3 separate regions of the Homo sapiens genome follow, and regions 2 and 3 are each linked to region 1. The links come from fine-mapping of genetic effects on gene expression. A gene starts in region 1. Each other region holds a variant in brackets. All regions are shown on one strand. Distances are between the middles of the regions.

What was found. PIP is the estimated chance that this variant, and not a neighbour inherited with it, causes the effect.
Region 2: its variant is fine-mapped to the expression of MADCAM1-AS1 in stomach (GTEx, PIP 0.95).
Region 3: its variant is fine-mapped to the expression of MADCAM1-AS1 in skeletal muscle (GTEx, PIP above 0.99). The same link has a PIP of 0.9 or more in anterior cingulate cortex, atrial appendage, breast, caudate, cerebellar hemisphere and esophagus muscle.

Annotation. Positions count from the first base shown.
Region 1 is chr19:505,106-510,726 of GRCh38, forward strand. It overlaps MADCAM1-AS1 (MADCAM1 antisense RNA 1), which reads right to left and starts at 2,784. Exons shown (of 3, transcript XR_936221.4): 1 at 2,271-2,784. TPGS1 (tubulin polyglutamylase complex subunit 1) reads left to right here and starts at 2,392. Exons shown (of 2, transcript NM_033513.3): 1 at 2,392-2,739. The coding sequence starts at 2,402. MADCAM1 (mucosal vascular addressin cell adhesion molecule 1) reads left to right here. Exons shown (of 5, transcript NM_130760.3): 5 at 1-238. RefSeq lists enhancers at 1,468-2,325, 2,198-2,537, 5,375-5,621 and silencers at 1,538-1,667, 5,524-5,621.
Region 2 is chr19:496,499-502,119 of GRCh38, forward strand. It overlaps MADCAM1 (mucosal vascular addressin cell adhesion molecule 1), which reads left to right. Exons shown (of 5, transcript NM_130760.3): 1 at 1-53; 2 at 1,335-1,619; 3 at 1,998-2,327; 4 at 5,171-5,431. The coding sequence starts at 2. MADCAM1-AS1 (MADCAM1 antisense RNA 1) reads right to left here. Exons shown (of 3, transcript XR_936221.4): 2 at 5,043-5,126; 3 at 3,271-3,362. Among named protein-coding and RNA genes, the nearest start is that of MADCAM1, 2.8 kb to the left of the region's middle. The variant G/A (reference allele first, on the strand shown) is at 3,480.
Region 3 is chr19:485,096-490,716 of GRCh38, forward strand. LOC124904608 (a long non-coding RNA gene) reads left to right here and starts at 4,071. Exons shown (of 2, transcript XR_007067072.1): 1 at 4,071-4,610; 2 at 4,771-4,975. It also overlaps a transcript of CIMAP1D not described here. RefSeq lists enhancers at 558-1,076, 4,382-4,883 and silencers at 3,711-4,340, 4,411-4,460. The variant G/C (reference allele first, on the strand shown) is at 3,381.

The DNA.
Region 1 (5,621 bases):
TGGAGAAGCTCATCAGAAACTCAAAAGAAGGCCACTGTTTGTCTCACCTACCCATGACCTGAAGCCCCTCCCTGAGTGGTCCCCACCTTTCTGGACGGAACCACGTACTTTTTACATACATTGATTCATGTCTCACGTCTCCCTAAAAATGCGTAAGACCAAGCTGTGCCCTGACCACCCTGGGCCCCTGTCGTCAGGACCTCCTGAGGCTTTGGCAAATAAACCTCCTAAAATGATACAAACGTGTCAGTTTTCTCAGTTGACACCCACTCCGTGGAGAGGAGAGGTCTGAGGGCTCCGGACAGCAGAGGGTTGACTGTGGGTCCTGCCCTGATGGCTCCATCTCCCTCATCCCACAGTCCGGGGCTGGAGAAGAAAGTGTTAGAAATGCTTGTTCCCCGGTGCCGTAAAGAAATAGCACTTGAATATAAATGTCATTTCCTCAGCAAGGCCACTGTTTTACTTTCTGCAGAAAGGGTACACTGGCCAGCAGTTTTGCCACGAGAGTATCCAGAACAAAGGAGACAGGGTCATTTATAACCTGACGCGTCCACCCTACTGCTCTGTCCGGTTTCCATTGGCTGGAACGGGACGGTTTCCATTGGCTGGAACGGGACCTCACATTCTGTATTTATCCCGATCGGCTAGCAGCTTGGAACTTTTAAAAAGAGGCAAAGGCAGAGGAGAACAAAGGAAGGAAGAAGTAGCTTGTGGAATGCTAAGAAAGGTAAAAACACCTTCAAATAAGGAAGAGGAACAGGTTATGACCTAATGCTTGCTTGGACCAGTATAAGCATGCCAGGGCAGATATTTAGCCTACATTGTGGGCACTAAGAACATAAAGTATGTTGATTTCCTTATTACATTATATATATTCAATATAACATTAACAATTAATTAACAAAGAATGTTAGCACAGGTCTTTTGTTTGTTTGTTTTTTGAGACAGAGTCTCGCTCTGTCGCCCAGGCTGGAGTGCAGTGGCGCGATCTCGGCTCACTTGCAAGCTCCGCCTCCCGGGTTCACGCCATTCTCCTGCCTCAGCCTCCCGAGTAGCTGGGACTACAGGCGCCCGCCACCACGCCTGGCTAATTTTTTGTATTTTTAGTAGAGACGGGGTTTCACCGTGTTAGCCGGGATGGTCTCGATCTCCTGACCTCGTGATCCGCCCGCCTCGGCCTCCCAAAGTGCTGGGATGACAGGCGTGAGCCACCGCGCCCGGCCTACCACAGGCCTTTGAATACATTTTGCTTCTAAGAGAAGTTACTATTTATTCCTAATTAGATGGGGAGGAAAGTCTCATTTGAAGAGGAACCTCTACTTCACGTTTTACAAAGGGCATTTGGTCTGCCCGCCAGAGATTCCTGTGCTGGGAGGATGGTGGAACGGTCCCCCGGCAAACAGCTCTCATTGCCCCCTGCCCGGGGCAACGCCCCTGAGGGACGGGGACGGCACCCAGCAAGCTCTGCCCGGGGCGGGGAAACGCGAGGGCTTAGTGGTTTCCTCGGTGAGAAGCTTAACCAGGAGTCCCCGAAAGCAGTGAGGGAAGATCCACAGAGGTCGCCTGGGGAAACACACCCAGAGGCGGCTTATGGAGGAGACTGCTTGTGTTTTGAGGTGGCTGCGGGCTGCGGAGGGTTGGGAGGGCCGGGAGGGCGGCCGGAAGCGAGGTCAGGCGATGAAGGCCTGGAGGTGCCAGCCCGGGGGCCCTGGAGAGCCATGGCAGAGTTTACAGCTCTGGAGGCTGCGGTGTCAGAAAGCTCCCTCTGGCGGTCAGGGGGTAACAGCGCGGGATGCTCGCCCGTGTGGCCGCCAATAGGGGCTCAGCGCAGCTGCAGCGGAGCTGGGGAGGGGGCTTCTCCCACGAGGTGAGCTACGCACTCAGACGTTGACTGAGTTAGGCGGAAGGCCAGGCTGAGCTCGACCCCCAGCACCAAGGCTCAGAGATGAACATGAGAAAAGGGTCTGGGGGCCGGGCGCGGGGCTGGGTCCAGCAGTCCTGGGCAGGTCCAGCCCCGCGCATGCTCCGTCAGGCTTCTCTGCTAACCAGGGAGACTGGTTGCTAGGAGACCATGCTAATGAAGGACTCGCTCACTACCCAAATGGCAAGCAATCCGGCTTTGTGCCAGAAACGAAGCACTTCCGAGGCAGCCATTTTGGAGTCTGGCAAAATTCAGGACCGAGGCCAAAGCCAGGAGAGCCAATCAATATACACAAAGAGGGAGGAGAAGAGAGAGTGCCAATAAGGACACAAGGAAAGTGGTAGCGTACCCTTGTCACTTCCCAAAGTCTCCCAGCGGGATACCGGTGCCCTCTGCCCTTAATCAAGATGGCCGCCTTGGGGGGGCTCTAGCGCACAGTGGAATATGGCGGTGCTTCCGGTCCCGCTGCCCTCAGCGAAGATGGCGGCAGTGGAGAAGCGGCGGCAAGCGGTACCACCGCCGGCCGGTTTCACGGACAGCGGCCGCCAGTCGGTATCCCGGGCGGCGGGGGCGGCCGAGAGCGAGGAGGACTTCCTGCGGCAGGTCGGCGTGACGGAAATGCTACGTGCGGCCCTGCTGAAGGTGCTGGAGGCGCGGCCCGAGGAGCCGATCGCCTTCCTGGCTCACTACTTCGAGAACATGGGCCTGCGCTCGCCTGTAAACGGCGGCGCCGGGGAGCCCCCGGGCCAGCTCCTGCTGCAGCAGCAGCGCCTGGGCCGCGCGCTATGGCACCTTCGCCTGGCCCACCACTCCCAGAGGTGCGCAGTGGGCCGGCTTGGGCGGGTGGGGCAGCGATGGACTTCAACTCCCAGCATGCCGCGCGCGGCTCCCTACCCGCAGCGCCGGCGCAGGGGCCCGGGGCTTGCTGGGAGTTGTAGTGCGCGATGCCTTCTTGGGTGGGATGGATCGGACAAGGTGGGCTGGAGGGTCCGGGCTTCGGTCCGGCGCTAGGCAGCGCGCTGCATGCGGCGCGAGTCCTTCTGGCCGGCTTCGCCTTCTGTGATGCCTTTTTGCAGGTGCTGAGTTTCCCCTTGCAGTTCATGATTTTCAAAATCGTGCAGCTCAAGAGGACTTGGCCCGAGGTCGCAGAGCCAGCCCCCGAGCCAGGTCCTCCTAGTCGCCTCCTTAGCAGCCTCATGTTATCCCCGTCCATTCAGCCAGAACGTGAATATTTACAGAGAGCAGCGCAGTCACCCAGGGCCCCCATCTTAGGGGACAGGCTCCCAGCGGGCAGGTGGGGATTCCTGGAAGAGCCTGGCGATGTGCGGGCGGGTTGCAGGGAAGAGGCCCAGCAGGTGCAAATTTAGACCCCGAGTGTGGGGCACACGGGAGGCGGGAAAGCCACGGAATTTGGCTGAAGCATGCGAGGCTGCAGGTGCCTACGCGCGGTGTCCCCTGGCTGGGGCCAGTTCTGAGCCCAGGGAAGGTGGTTGGGGACTATCTGTTGGCGTTGGGGATGGATGGGCTGATGTCTTTTGTTGGGGGGGGGGTCCCCAGAAGCGGAGCCTGAGGTAGGCATTGTGTGTGCAGGTGATTTTACAAGGGGGTGCGCCCAAGAGAACCCAGGAAGGGGGTGGGAAGAGCAGGCAGGGAAGGATGCCAAGCAAAGGTGCCCTTTCAGCCTCATAACCAGGGCATAAGCGCCCACCATGGCAGCCCTCGCCAGAGTCCCAGAGAAGTTCGGGGGGAGAAGAGAGATGGGGAGTGTCCCCCCTACCACGTTCAGGGTGCACAGGTGTCCAAGATCATACTCAGATAAGGGTGGCAGGGTGTTGGGTACCTGGACAAGGAGCAGACTTGCTCCGGTGGCCCAGTGGCTCTGAAGGCCCCGCCCGATGATTTGCTGGAGCCAGGTGGGAGGGGAGCGGGCAAGGGCAGGCCCAGAGGGTCAGTGGAGCCGTTTACTGCGATGGAAGGCCCCTGGTTTGAAGAAGCTGCCAGAGCCACTTGCGGATTAAGTTGGAGGCTGGGAGGAGCCTGGAGACAGGAAGGTAGAAAGAAGCGTCTGCAACTGACGTGGGGCCAGGACAGAAGACTGAACTGGAGGGGTCCTGAAGTCTTCAGGAGAGATGAGAAGAGCTCAGGACCCCACTCTGAGGGCACCTAGCCCAGAGAGCCCACCAGAGAGGGTGAGAACGTGAGACCAGAGGTGAACGGGGAGCAGGAGGAAGATGGCCTCCCAGGACATCCGGAAGAGAATCTCCCAAGGAGGAAAAGGGGTCAACAGCAGGCCCACCACGTATGGTTGTTCAGGTTGAGCACTGCACAAGCCACTCACCCCGTAGACACTGCAGATGAGGATATTTATATTTATATTAATTTCCGAGGGCTGCTGGAACAAATTACCTCCAACTTAGTGGCTTAAAACAACAGAAATTTATTCTCTCACAGTTCTGGAGGGCAGAAGTCTGAAATCGGAGTGTCAGGAGGACCACACTCCCTCTGGAGGCTCCAGGGAAGGAGCCTTCCTTGCCTCCCCAGCCTCCAGTGGCGGCCAGCAGTCTTTGGCTTGTGGCCACATTGCTGCAGTCTCTGCCTCCGTCGTCACGTGGCCTCCTGTGTGTCTCTGTTCTGTGTTCCCTCATAAGGACACCACTAGGCCCCACCCTACTCCAGTGTGACCTCAACCGCCTACATCTGCAAAGCTGCTGTCTCAAATAAGCTCTCAGTCTGAGGTTCTGGATGGGCGTGAGTTTGGTGGGCACCAGTCACCCCAGGACAGGAGTGGAGCCATTGGCTGGAAGAGTTCTCATAGCAGGGACTCAGGGCAAGGGTGGTGCTGGTGGCAGATGCATCCCGGCCCTGGGCTCGCCTGGGCTCCCCAGAGACACAGCCAGTGGGGAATGCAGAAGACAGGTGCACAGACCTGCGTGGCATCTGATTCTGTGCTCATGGAGCCAGGCCTGCTCCCGTCCTCCCAGCAGGCAGCTCCGGCCGCCCCTCCATCCTTGGACCGTCAGGAACCCCTGAGGTCACCTGACCAGTCAGGAAGAGAAGCCCAGAGCAGCCGGGCGCGGTGGCTCACGCCTGTCATCCCAGCACTTTGGGAGGCCGAGGCGGGCGGATCACAAGGTCAGGAGATCGAGACCATCCTGGCTAACACGGTGAAACCCCGTCTCTACTAAAAATACAAAAAATTAGCCGGGTGTGGTGGCGGGCGCCTGTAGTCCCAGCTACTCGGGAGGCTGAGGCAGGAGAATGGCATGAACCCAGGAGGCGGAGCTTGCATTGAGCCGAGATCGCGCCACTGCACTCCAGCCTGGGCGACAGAGCGAGACTCTGTCTCAAAAAAAAAAAAAGAGAAGCTCAGAGCCTGGCAGATTTGTCCCCACTCAGTCCAGTGTGTTGACCCCCAAAGGCTGAGGGGCTGACTGGGGCTGCTCCTGAGAGCATCACCGTGGTAGGCTGGGGGAGAAGTCACCCCAGATCCTCCCTGGCACCTTCTTTTGAGAAATGGCAAGCTCCGGCCGCCAGGGCTGGTGATGGCAGCCACAGTGTCCCCCTCCTGCCACCTTCCTGGTCGTCTCCAAGGCCCCCTGGAGCACACACACAGACGTTACATGACTTGCTGAAGGCCACACGGCCACCGAGGGCAGAGCTGGGGTCAGAGAGCCCCAGAGTGCAGCCCCGGAGGCCTCCT
Region 2 (5,621 bases), 8.6 kb before region 1:
CATGGATTTCGGACTGGCCCTCCTGCTGGCGGGGCTTCTGGGGCTCCTCCTCGGTGAGAAGGGGAGGGGGCGCGGGAGAGAGGAGTGAGTTAGGAGGGGGCTCAGGAGAGAGGAGGGGGCTCAGGAGAGGGGAGGGGGCTCAGGAGAGAGGAGAGGGCCCGGGAGAGAGGAGGGGGCCCAGGAGAGGGGAGGGGGCTCAGTAGAGTGGGGGGGCTCAGGAGAGAGGAGGGACGCAGGAGAGAGGAGGGGCGCAGGAGAGAGGAGGGGGCTCAGGAGAGTGGAGGGGGCTCAGGAGAGAGGAGGGGCGCAGGAGAGAGGAGGGGGCGCGGGAGAGAGGAGGGGGCGCGGAGGGGAGGGGGCGCAGGAGAGAGGAGGGGGCGCAGGAGAGTGGAGGGGGCGCGGGAGAGAGGAGGGGGCGCGGGAGAGGGGAGGGGGCTCGGGGGAGAGGAAGGGGCGCGGTGAGCGGGGAGGGGACGCGGGAGAGAGGAGGGAGTTAGGAGGGGGCTCAGGAGAGGGGAGGGGGCTCAGTAGAGTGGGGGGGCTCAGGAGAGAGGAGGGACGCAGGAGAGAGGAGGGGCGCAGGGGAGAGGAGGGGGCGCAGGAGAGTGGAGGGGGCTCAGGAGAGAGAAGGGGCTCAGGAGAGAGAAGGGGCGCAGGAGAGAGGAGGGGCGCGGAGGGGAGGGGGCGCAGGAGAGAGCAGGGGGCGCAGTAAAGTGAAGAGGACTCAGGAGAGAGGAGGGGGCGCGGGAGAGGGGAGGGGGTTTGGAAGAGAAGGGGGGCTCGGGAGAGGGGAGGGGGCTCGGGAGAGGGGAGGGGGTTCGGAAGAGAAGGGGGGCCCGGGAGAGGGGAGGGGGCCCGGGGGAGAGGAAGGGGCGCGGTGAGCGGGGAGGGGACGCGGGAGAGAGGAGGGAGTTAAGAGGGGGCGCAGGAGAGAGGAGGGGCTCGGAGGGGGCGCGGGAGAGACGAGGGGTGCTCAGAGTTAAGGGGCTCCGAGATAGGGGGTGATTGGTGATCCTGCCAGAGGAGGGGGCTCGGAGGAGGCAGGGGCTGAGAGGGGAAGTTGCGGGGCTCCGCGCGGCCCCCTGACCCGCAGCGAAACTGGCTCCAGGCAGCTGGGGTTCGGGGGACTGGGGCAGAGGCGGCGGTCGGGGCGGGGTTCAGGGACCGAGCCTGGGAGTCCGGGTAGCGGCGGGGCAGGGGTCCGGGGGTGCAGCGGAGGGTCCGGGAACCGGGCAGAGGCGGGGCGGGGTCCGGGGGTGGAGCGGGACGCAGGGCCGGTGGCGGGGCGGGGTCCGGGACTCCGCGGGGCTGAGCGAGAGCCGCGGTCGCCGCAGGCCAGTCCCTCCAGGTGAAGCCCCTGCAGGTGGAGCCCCCGGAGCCGGTGGTGGCCGTGGCCTTGGGCGCCTCGCGCCAGCTCACCTGCCGCCTGGCCTGCGCGGACCGCGGGGCCTCGGTGCAGTGGCGGGGCCTGGACACCAGCCTGGGCGCGGTGCAGTCGGACACGGGCCGCAGCGTCCTCACCGTGCGCAACGCCTCGCTGTCGGCGGCCGGGACCCGCGTGTGCGTGGGCTCCTGCGGGGGCCGCACCTTCCAGCACACCGTGCAGCTCCTTGTGTACGGTGAGGCGTCCCCCCGCGCCCTGCCTCTCTGACCCTTGGACTCCCGGCTCCTTCCCTATGCCACCTCTTCCTGGAAGCCTCCCAGATTGCAGGCAGGGTCCCAGCTCCATGCACAGCTCCCCGAAGCCAGGTCCCCGGCCTTCGCTTCCCTCCAACTCACCCCAACTCTCCCAGGGCCGGCCCTGGCCCATCCTCCTGTCTATTCCAGCCTCCCAGGGTGGGGCCACGGGGCCTGCGCACAGGCCGTCCCTACTGCCTGTTCATCAGCAGCCCCCACGCATCCTTGGCCCCAGCTCCAAGCCCCTCCGGGCTCCGGCCCCTCCATCACGTCCAGCCCTGACTCTGGGCTCAGCCCTCACCCCCGACCCTCCATCACAGCCTTCCCGGACCAGCTGACCGTCTCCCCAGCAGCCCTGGTGCCTGGTGACCCGGAGGTGGCCTGTACGGCCCACAAAGTCACGCCCGTGGACCCCAACGCGCTCTCCTTCTCCCTGCTCGTCGGGGGCCAGGAACTGGAGGGGGCGCAAGCCCTGGGCCCGGAGGTGCAGGAGGAGGAGGAGGAGCCCCAGGGGGACGAGGACGTGCTGTTCAGGGTGACAGAGCGCTGGCGGCTGCCGCCCCTGGGGACCCCTGTCCCGCCCGCCCTCTACTGCCAGGCCACGATGAGGCTGCCTGGCTTGGAGCTCAGCCACCGCCAGGCCATCCCCGGTGAGTCCGCTGGGTGCCCTGGAGACCCACCCGCTCGCCAGCCTTGACAAGCACTTCGGGACGGGGTGGGGGGGTGGGGGGGCAGCACCTGTGCTGTGGGGCGCTGGGAGGACTGGATTCCCCCACGCAGCGACAGCGACATTCATCGACGCAACATGTATTTGCCGAGCACCTGCCCCCCAGCACAGGTCCCACCCCTCCCCTGCCCACAGCGCTCCATGGCTCTTGCCTTGGGGTCAAAGCCCAAGTCCTCCCGGGGGCCCACAGGAACCTGCACGACCTACCCTGTCCCCTTCCTGTCCTCCCTCCACCCTTTCTCCCCCTCCTCATTCTGCTGCAGCCACACGGGCCTCCTCGCCTCCTCGCTGTTCCTCCAACACACCAGGCGTGATCCTGCCCCGGGGCCTTTGCACGGCTGTGCCCTCTGCCGGGAATACCCTTCTTCCGGATCTTTCCACGGCTCTCTCCTCCTCCCCCTCAGGTCTCTGTAGAATGTTGCCTCCTCCGTGAGGCTTCCCTGGATTCCCGTTTAAAGGGTCAACCCCTGATCCCCAACGTGTACAAACATAGGCACACAAGCACACACATGTACAAACACAGACACACACACGCGTGCACACAGGCACACACGCACACGCGTGTACAAACAGGCACACAAGCACACACGGGAACAAACGCACACACCCACACGCGTGTACAAACACAGGCACACAGGCACACGCGTGTACAAACACGCACACGCGTGTGAGCCCCCTTTCCCTTCTGTTTCGTTTCTTGACACCTTGGATAACATCTGACATCCCCCAGTCCCGTACATTCTCTTTTCCATGACCTTCTCCCACTGTGGCTCCCCAGGTGGGAATCTTGTGTCGCGCACGGCTGTGTCCACAGAAGCTAGAACAGGGCCTGGGGCATAGCAGGTGCTCAATAAACCCTTGCTGAATGCTCGGATGAAGACATTTAATGTGGGCCGGTGCCCTGGCGGTGCTCCCTTCACGCTCTGTCCAATCCCGAAGCCCCTGCCGGCTTCTCCCACTAAAGAAAAAGGGATTTGTCCTCCCATGGGGCACCCTGATACCCATGTTAATGGACGTGAGGTCGTGAGTTTCAAGCAAAGGGCTCCCGGGGATAAAGCAGAAGCTGGGAGACCCG[G/A]GAGGTCTTTGTGGTGGGGGTGGGGCTGGGGTGGGCAGAGAGGAGGCTGGATTTGAGGGATATTTTACAGAACACGGGCCCTCACGGGCCTCAGTCTCCCCATCAGTCCCACAGGGGATGGAGCAGAAGGCCAGGGCAGAAAGCCCCCAAGCACCTTCTCTCTCCACGCCAGCCTCCTCCCAACTCTCCTCGTCCACAGCCCATCATAATAAACGCGGGACCCACTCGCTCTCAGGGCAGCCCAAAGAGGTGACTCTCACCCCTTTGACAGTTGAGGAAACTGAGGCACGTGGAGATTAAGGAGGCTGCTGGGGTGATGTTGCCAGTGAGTGGGGGACCTGGAATGCCCGGACTCCCATCCTGCCCACTGTGGTGCCTCAGCTTCCTCATCTGTCCAGTGGACTTCCCTGACTGTGGGTCCTTTGTAAATTTCAGGGACCATGTGGATTTCAAAGCACTTTATAAATTATAGGCTTTAGGCCGGGCTCACGCCTGTAATCCCAGCACTTTGGGAGGCTGAGGTGGGTGGATTACCTGAGGTCAGGAGTTCAAGACCAGCCTGGCCAACATAGTGAAACCCCATCTCTATTAAAAATACAAAAATTAGATGTGGCCAGGTGCGGTGGCTCATGCTTGTAATCCCAGCACTTTGGGAAGCTGAGGTGGGTGGATCACGAGATTAGGAGATCGAGACTAGCCTGACCAACATGGTGAAACCCCGTCCCCTACTAAAAATACAAATATTAGCCTGGCGTGGTGGTGAGCGCCTGTAATTCCAGCTACTCAGGAGGCTGAGGCGGGAGAATCGCTTGAACCCGGGAGGCGGAGGTTGCAGTGAGCCGAGATCGCACCATTGCACTCCAGCCTGGGCAACAGAACGAGACTCCATCTCAACAACAACAACAAATTCTAGGCTTTATCAACTAGAACAGTAAGCCGAATAGAAACAAAAATGTAGGCCAGCCATGGGAGGCTGAGGCGGGAGGATCACTTGAGTACAGGAGTTCCAGACCAGCTTGGGCAACATACGAGACCTCCCATCTCTACAAAAAAATTTAAAAATTAGCTGGGCGTGGTATTGCACACCTGTGGTCCCAGCTACTCAGGAGGCTGAGTGGGGAGGATGGCTTCAGCCTGGGAGGTTGAGGCTGCAGTGATCCATGATCACAACACTGCACTCCAGCCTGCACGACAGAGTGAGACCCCATCTCTAAAAAAAAAAACCAGGCCGGGCGTGGTGGCTCACGCCTGTAATCCCAGCACTTTGGGAGGCCGAGGTGGGTAGATCACCTGAGGTTGGGAGTTCAAGGCCAGCCTGACCAACATGGAGAAACCCCATCTCTACTAAAAATACAAAATTAGCCAGGTGTGGTGGCAAGCGCCTGTGATCCCAGCTACTCCAGAGGCTGAGGCAGGGGAATCGCTTGAACCTGAGGAGCGGAGGTTGTGGTGAGCCAAGATTGCGCCACTGCACTCCAGCCTGGGTAACAAGAGCAAAACTCTGTCTCAAAAAAAAAAAAAAAAAAAAAAAAAAAAAAAAGAATAAATGGAAATGTGACTCACCAGAGTGGTCCAGGGAAGGGGCTTGGAGGGGTTCTGGTCCAAGCCCTTCATCCAGATGCGGAGATTGAGGCAGGAGAGGCAAGCCTGGGGCAGCAGAGAGGAAAAAAAAACCCTCACTCTGTTTCCAGTCCTGCACAGCCCGACCTCCCCGGAGCCTCCCGACACCACCTCCCCGGAGTCTCCCGACACCACCTCCCCGGAGTCTCCCGACACCACCTCCCAGGAGCCTCCCGACACCACCTCCCCGGAGCCTCCCGACAAGACCTCCCCGGAGCCCGCCCCCCAGCAGGGCTCCACACACACCCCCAGGAGCCCAGGCTCCACCAGGACTCGCCGCCCTGAGATCTCCCAGGCTGGGCCCACGCAGGGAGAAGTGATCCCAACAGGCTGTGAGTTCTGGTCCCTGGGGGCAGGGAGGGTGGGAAGGGCTGAGAGCGAGAGGTTCCTTGGATGAAGACTTTAGACAAGAAATTGCCCTGCCCAGCCTTGGTTTCCCCGTCTGCCCAGCCTCAGTTTCCCCGTCTGCCCAGCCTCGGTTTCCCCATCTGCCCAGCCTCGGTTTCCCCGTCTTTCCAGCCT
Region 3 (5,621 bases), 20 kb before region 1:
GGGGAGGGTCCTGGAAGGGCGGGTGCAACCTCAACCCAGCGGAGGACCCTGCTGACCTGCTTAGTTGTTTATGGAGGGTCATTGCCGTGCTCTACCACGTAACACACGTACACACACACACACAGGTGCACGTTTACACCACGTGGGTGCGCACGATGAGGCACACACAGGCAGGCGCGCACACACACGCGTGCTCACATAGGAACACGAAGAGGCAGGAGCCGGGCGTGCCCGAGCCCCGTGGCGCCCTGGGCATCCCAAACACCGCCTGCCCAGAACAGGTGCGCAGTGAGTGCCTGCTGAGCCAGTGAGTGGAATGAAGCTCTACAATAGTCCAGATGACAGACATGACTGCTGTGGCTGCTGCCGATCCAAGTCCCACCGTTCTTTTCTCTAGAGACAAGGTCTCACTCCACCATCCAGGCTGGCGCGATCACAGCTCACTGACGGTGGAGAAGGGTGATCAGAGAATGGTGGGAATGAGGCGGCCCTGACCTCCTGGGGTTAGCGATCCTCCCACCTCAGCCCCCTAAAGCACCGGGAGGGCAGGTGTGAGCCACGGTGCCAGCCCCAAGTTCCCGACATTCTTTCCTAAAACACATCCTCCGGCTGCAGATGAGGGTGCGACAGCTGGGAGGCAGCTCCCAGGAGGCCGGGTTCCTCCGATGACCTGCTGTTTCTGTGTCCCTGGCACACGGCACAGCAGGAGAGGGGGAGGCCAGGTGTTTGTGGCTGCTGCCACCGGCCCGTCCAGGGTCAGCTCATGCTCCCAGCCTCCGTGATCTGCCACTCCCCACTTCCCTGAGGCTGCTCACTGCTGTCCTTTGTCCGGCGGCCAGCCCCCTGACTCAGACTCACGCGCCCTGCTGCTGCCCGCCCCTTTGTTCCCGGGAGACTCTAACAAGGAAGGCTTGTTCTTCCCGCAAGGACACAGAGAACCTGCCAGCTCCCCTCCATCCTCATCCAGAGAGAGCCTGCTGTCCCCGTGGGACAGTGAGGACAGGACCAGCTCTCAGGCTCTGCTGGGCACCCAGCCCATGCCTGGCAAGTCCTCATGTTACAGACGAGGACACCGAAGCTCAGAGGAAGGAAGGGCTTGTATTCCGAGGATTTGGGGGGCTGGAGAGGGGTCCTAGTGGGCTCTGCTGTAGCCTGCAAGGTCCTACAAGCCCAGGTCCTTCCTGCCCTCTCTGGCTGCGTTGGTCCCTCCGGACTCAGCCTCTGCACTCACCGTACATTCTGCCTGATACACCCGGTCCAACTCCCTCCCCCTCCAGGAAGGCCTTGCTCAAATCTCTCCACCTCCAGGATCTTCCTTGGACCACTGATTGATTGATTGATTTTTTGTTTCTGTTGTTTTTCTGAGATGGAGTCTTGCTCTATCACCCAGGCTGGAGGGTAGTGGCGCAATCTCGGCTCACTGCAACCTCCGCCTGGTGGGTTCAGGCGATTCTCCTGCCTCAGCCTCCCAAGTAGCTGGGATTACAGGCGCCCGTCACCACACCCAGCTAATTTTTGTCTTTTTTAATAGAGATGGGGCCGGGAGCGGTGGCTCACGCCTGTAATCCCAGCACTTTGGGAGGCTGAGGCGAGCAGATCACGAGATCAGGAGATCGAGACCATCCTGGCTAATACAGTGAAACCCCGTCTCTACTAAAAATACAAAAAATTAGCCAGGCGTGGTGGCAGGCGCCTGTAGTCCCAGCTACACAGGAGGCTGAGGCAGAAGAATGACGTGAACCCGGGAGGCGGAGCTTGTAGTGAGCCGAGATTGTGCCAGTGCACTCCAGCCTGGGCGACAGAGCAAGACTCCATCTCAAAAAAAAGAAGGAAAGAAATAGAGATGGGGTTTCACCATGTTGGCCAGGCTGGTCTCAAACTCCTGACCTCAAGTGATCCGCCCACCTCAGCCTCCCAAAGTGCTGGGATTACAGGTGTGAACCGCCATGCCCGGCCTATCGGGACCACAGATTTGATCCTGCAACCTGCCTATCATCATGCTGCCTGCCCCCTTCCCTGCCTTTTCCTTCTTCCCAGCAGCACTCTCCACGCCTCACCTATTGCAGCGGCGGCTGGAGCTGCTCATGCCAGCTCCTGAGCCCACTGTGAAGTTCGCGGCGATCTGTGAGCTGGTTGGCTCATGTTGGCAGCCACGATGGGAGTATTTACAACACAGGGGGCGGCGTGCGCTGCAAGTGAGGGCCTTTTCCCTTGGAGAGCCAGCTGTTCAACATTTCTCCGCACAGCACCACTTCGGTATTATGCCCGAGGTTTATGGCATAACTAGCCTGGCTCATGGTCTCTCTTCCCTGCTGCTCACTAGAATGTAAGCTCCTTCGGGCCGAGGTCAGCCCACCTTGCACTCTGCTGTCTCCTTGGCACTTAAAACAACGCTTGGCATACAGCAGGCACTCAATAAAGATGTGCTGGCAGGGCGCATGACGTGTGCCTGTGGTCCCAACACTTTGGAAGGCCGAGGCGGGAGGATTGCTTGAGCTCAGGAGGCGGAGGTTGCAGTGAGTGGAGATCGCACCACTGCGCTCCAGCCTGGGCCACAGAGTGAGACCCTGTGTCAAAATAATAACAAGCATGAGGCAGGGGGGATCAGCTGAGGTCAGGAGTTCGAGACCAGCCTGGCCAACATGGTGAAACTCTATTAAGGGAGGAGACCATCCCTCATATTGTCTTATGCCCAATTTCTGCCTCCAAAGAAAGAAGTAAAAACTAAAAGGCAGAAATGAAATCCACAGGCAGACAGCCCGGCGCTGTGCCCTGGGCCTGGTAGTTAAAGAGCGACCCCTGACCTACTGGGTTACGTTATCTATAGATTCCAGACATTGTATGGAAAAGCACTGTGAAAACCCTTGTCCTGTTCTGTTCCGATCTGATTGCCGGTGCATGCAGCCCCCAGTCACGTACCCCCTGCTTGTTCAATCGATCACGACCCTCTCACGCGGACCCCCTGAGAGTTGTGAGCCCTGAAGAGGGACAGGAATTGCTCACTCGGGGAGCTCGGCTCTTGGGACAGGAGTCTTGCCGATGGCCCCGGCCGAATAAACCGCTTCCTTCTCTAACTGGGTGTCTGAGGAGTTTTGTCTGCGGCTCTTCCTGCTACACTATCTCTACTAAAAATACAAAAAAAAAAGGCCGGGCTTGGTGGCTGAAGCCTGTAATCCCAGCTCCTCGGGAGGCTGAGGCGGGCAGATCACGAGGTCAGGAGATCGAGACCATCCTGGCTAACACGGTGAAACCCCGTCTCTACTAAAAATACAAACAATTAGCCGGGCGTGGTGGCAGGCGCCTGTAGTCCCAGCTACTCGGGAGGCTGAGGCAGGAGAATGGCGTGAACCCGGGAGGCGGAGCTTGCGGTGAGCCGAGAT[G/C]GCGCCACTGCACTCCAGCCTGGGCGACAGAGCGAGACTCCGTCTCAAAAAAATAACAAGTAAATCAGTGTGGAACTAACGAGCGCCCTCGTCCCTCGCGCTGCTGGGACTGACGTCCGGGTACCCCCAACGCAACCACGGCCTCCCGGTGACCCTGACCCGCGAAGCGGGCCGGAAGCCCCGCAGCCCCTACTCCAGAATCCGCGTCCCGGAACCTGGATCCCCGACCGGGCCCTGCGGCCCCGACCCCCGCAGCGAGCCCAGCGCCGGGGAACAGGACCCGGCTTCCCAGTCTCCGCCCGGGGACACCAGGCTCCTTGGGCGAACGGCCAGGCCTCCCGGGACCAGCGCGCTGGAAGACTCGCGGCGGGGACGCCCCCTCGGCCGCCCCGTGCCGGGCCCCACGCAAGGGCAGCCGGGGCGCCCCGCAGTGGGAACGCGAGGAGACCGACCACGGGGCGAGACAGCCGCCAGGGCGTCCGCGCCGCCCGCCCCAAGCCCGCATCAGCCCGCCACGAACTCGGAGGACCGCGGGCTAGAGCGGCCCCGCCAGCGCGCAAAGCCTTGTGGGCCACACGCCCCGGCGCCCCGCGCTCCGCGGCATGGCGGGAGTTGTGGTTCAGCTGCGGGGGCCGCGCGGGAGCTGCCGGGAGCTGTGGGCGGGGTGGGTGCGCGCGCAGTGGCAGGGCCAGTGAGCTGCACCCGCGGAAAAGGAGGGGGAGCGGCTGGTCAGCTGCGCCCTGCGGGTCGAGAATGTCATCAGCAGGGATGGCGGCGCTTTGAGTGCTGAGCGCGGCCCCGACCGGGACCCCCTACCCTTGACCCACCCTCGCAGGCCGAGCCCCGACTCCCGACCCGCCGTCGCAGCCCGCGGCCCCGACCTCTGACCCGCCCTCGCAGCCCGCGGCCCCGACCTCTGACCCGCCCTCCCAGCCAGACCCTCTACGCCCGACCCGCCCTCGCAGCCCATGGCCCATCGGCCCGGCAGTGGACGCAGAGCCTCGGCCCCGTTCCCTCCCCGGACCCCCCGGACCCGCTCTCCGTCCTCCCTGCAGAGCCGAGGGCCTTGGCCCAGCCCCGCATCCTCCCCGACCGTGCTCGATCCAGCCCGGGTGTGCTGCACCCGAAACAGGCTCCCGGGGGCCGTCGGGCCTGTGGGTGACCGTGCAGGCCAGGATCTCCCCCTTCCCAGTCGTGACAACCACAGATGGCCCCAGATGCCACGTTAGGGTTAGTGCCTCCTGGGGGCGGGATTGCGGCCGGGGGAGAACCACCCTCCCAACCCGTTAGGAACTGCAGGGACGGAGAGCGCGCTCGGGATGTCCAGCACTCAGCGCGGGTTGGGTGGCGAATGGAGAGCGAGTCGTCCTCAGAGGCCGCCGGCCTGCAGGCGAGAACCCTCCCAGCCAGGAGGCTGCGGCTCTGCCTGAACCCCGACCCAGGGCGAACACCCACATTTGGCCCCTGCCCGGTGCTGAGAGAGGCCAGAGCGGCGTCCCCAGAAGCGGAGCGGGAGCCCCACGTCCGGCGGCCACGATAGAAAGAAGAAAAGAAATGGGTGGTAGTAAGTAAAATAAATCGTATGAAACATAAAACAAGGCCGGGCGCGTTGGCTCACGCCTGTAATCCCAGCACTGTGGGAGGCCGAGGCAGGTGGATCACCTGAGGTCAGGAGTTTGAGACCAGCCTGGCCAACATGGCAAAACCTCGTCTCTACTAAAAATACAAAAATTAGCCGGGCGTGGTGGCGCATGCCTGTGGTCCCACCTACTTGGAAGGCCGTCACAGTAGAATCACTTGAACCCGTGAGGTGGAGGTTGCAGTGAGCCGAGATAGCACCACTGTACTCCAGCCTGGGCGACAAGAGTGAAACTCCAGCTAAAAAAAAAAGAAAGAAAGAAACGTAAAACAAAGATGTATCTTTATCTTATTTAATCCACTGTGTCCAAAATACTATCCTTTCGATTCATAAGCAATACATGTTGAGATGCTGTACACTCTTTGTTCACGCTGAGCGTTCAGAGCCCAGTGTGTATTTTGCACATTTGTGTCCACTTCCTAATTCTCACAGGAAATATTCAACCTGCACTTCAGGCCACTAAAGTTCTAGTTGGAAAAGTGGCTTCACAAACCCTAGCTGTTGCACATGTTTTCCAATAGCTGCGTCCGTTTCTAAGTTGATATTCGTGTTAGAAAGGAGGCTTCAGGGCCAGGCGCGGTGGCTGACACCTGTAATCCAGC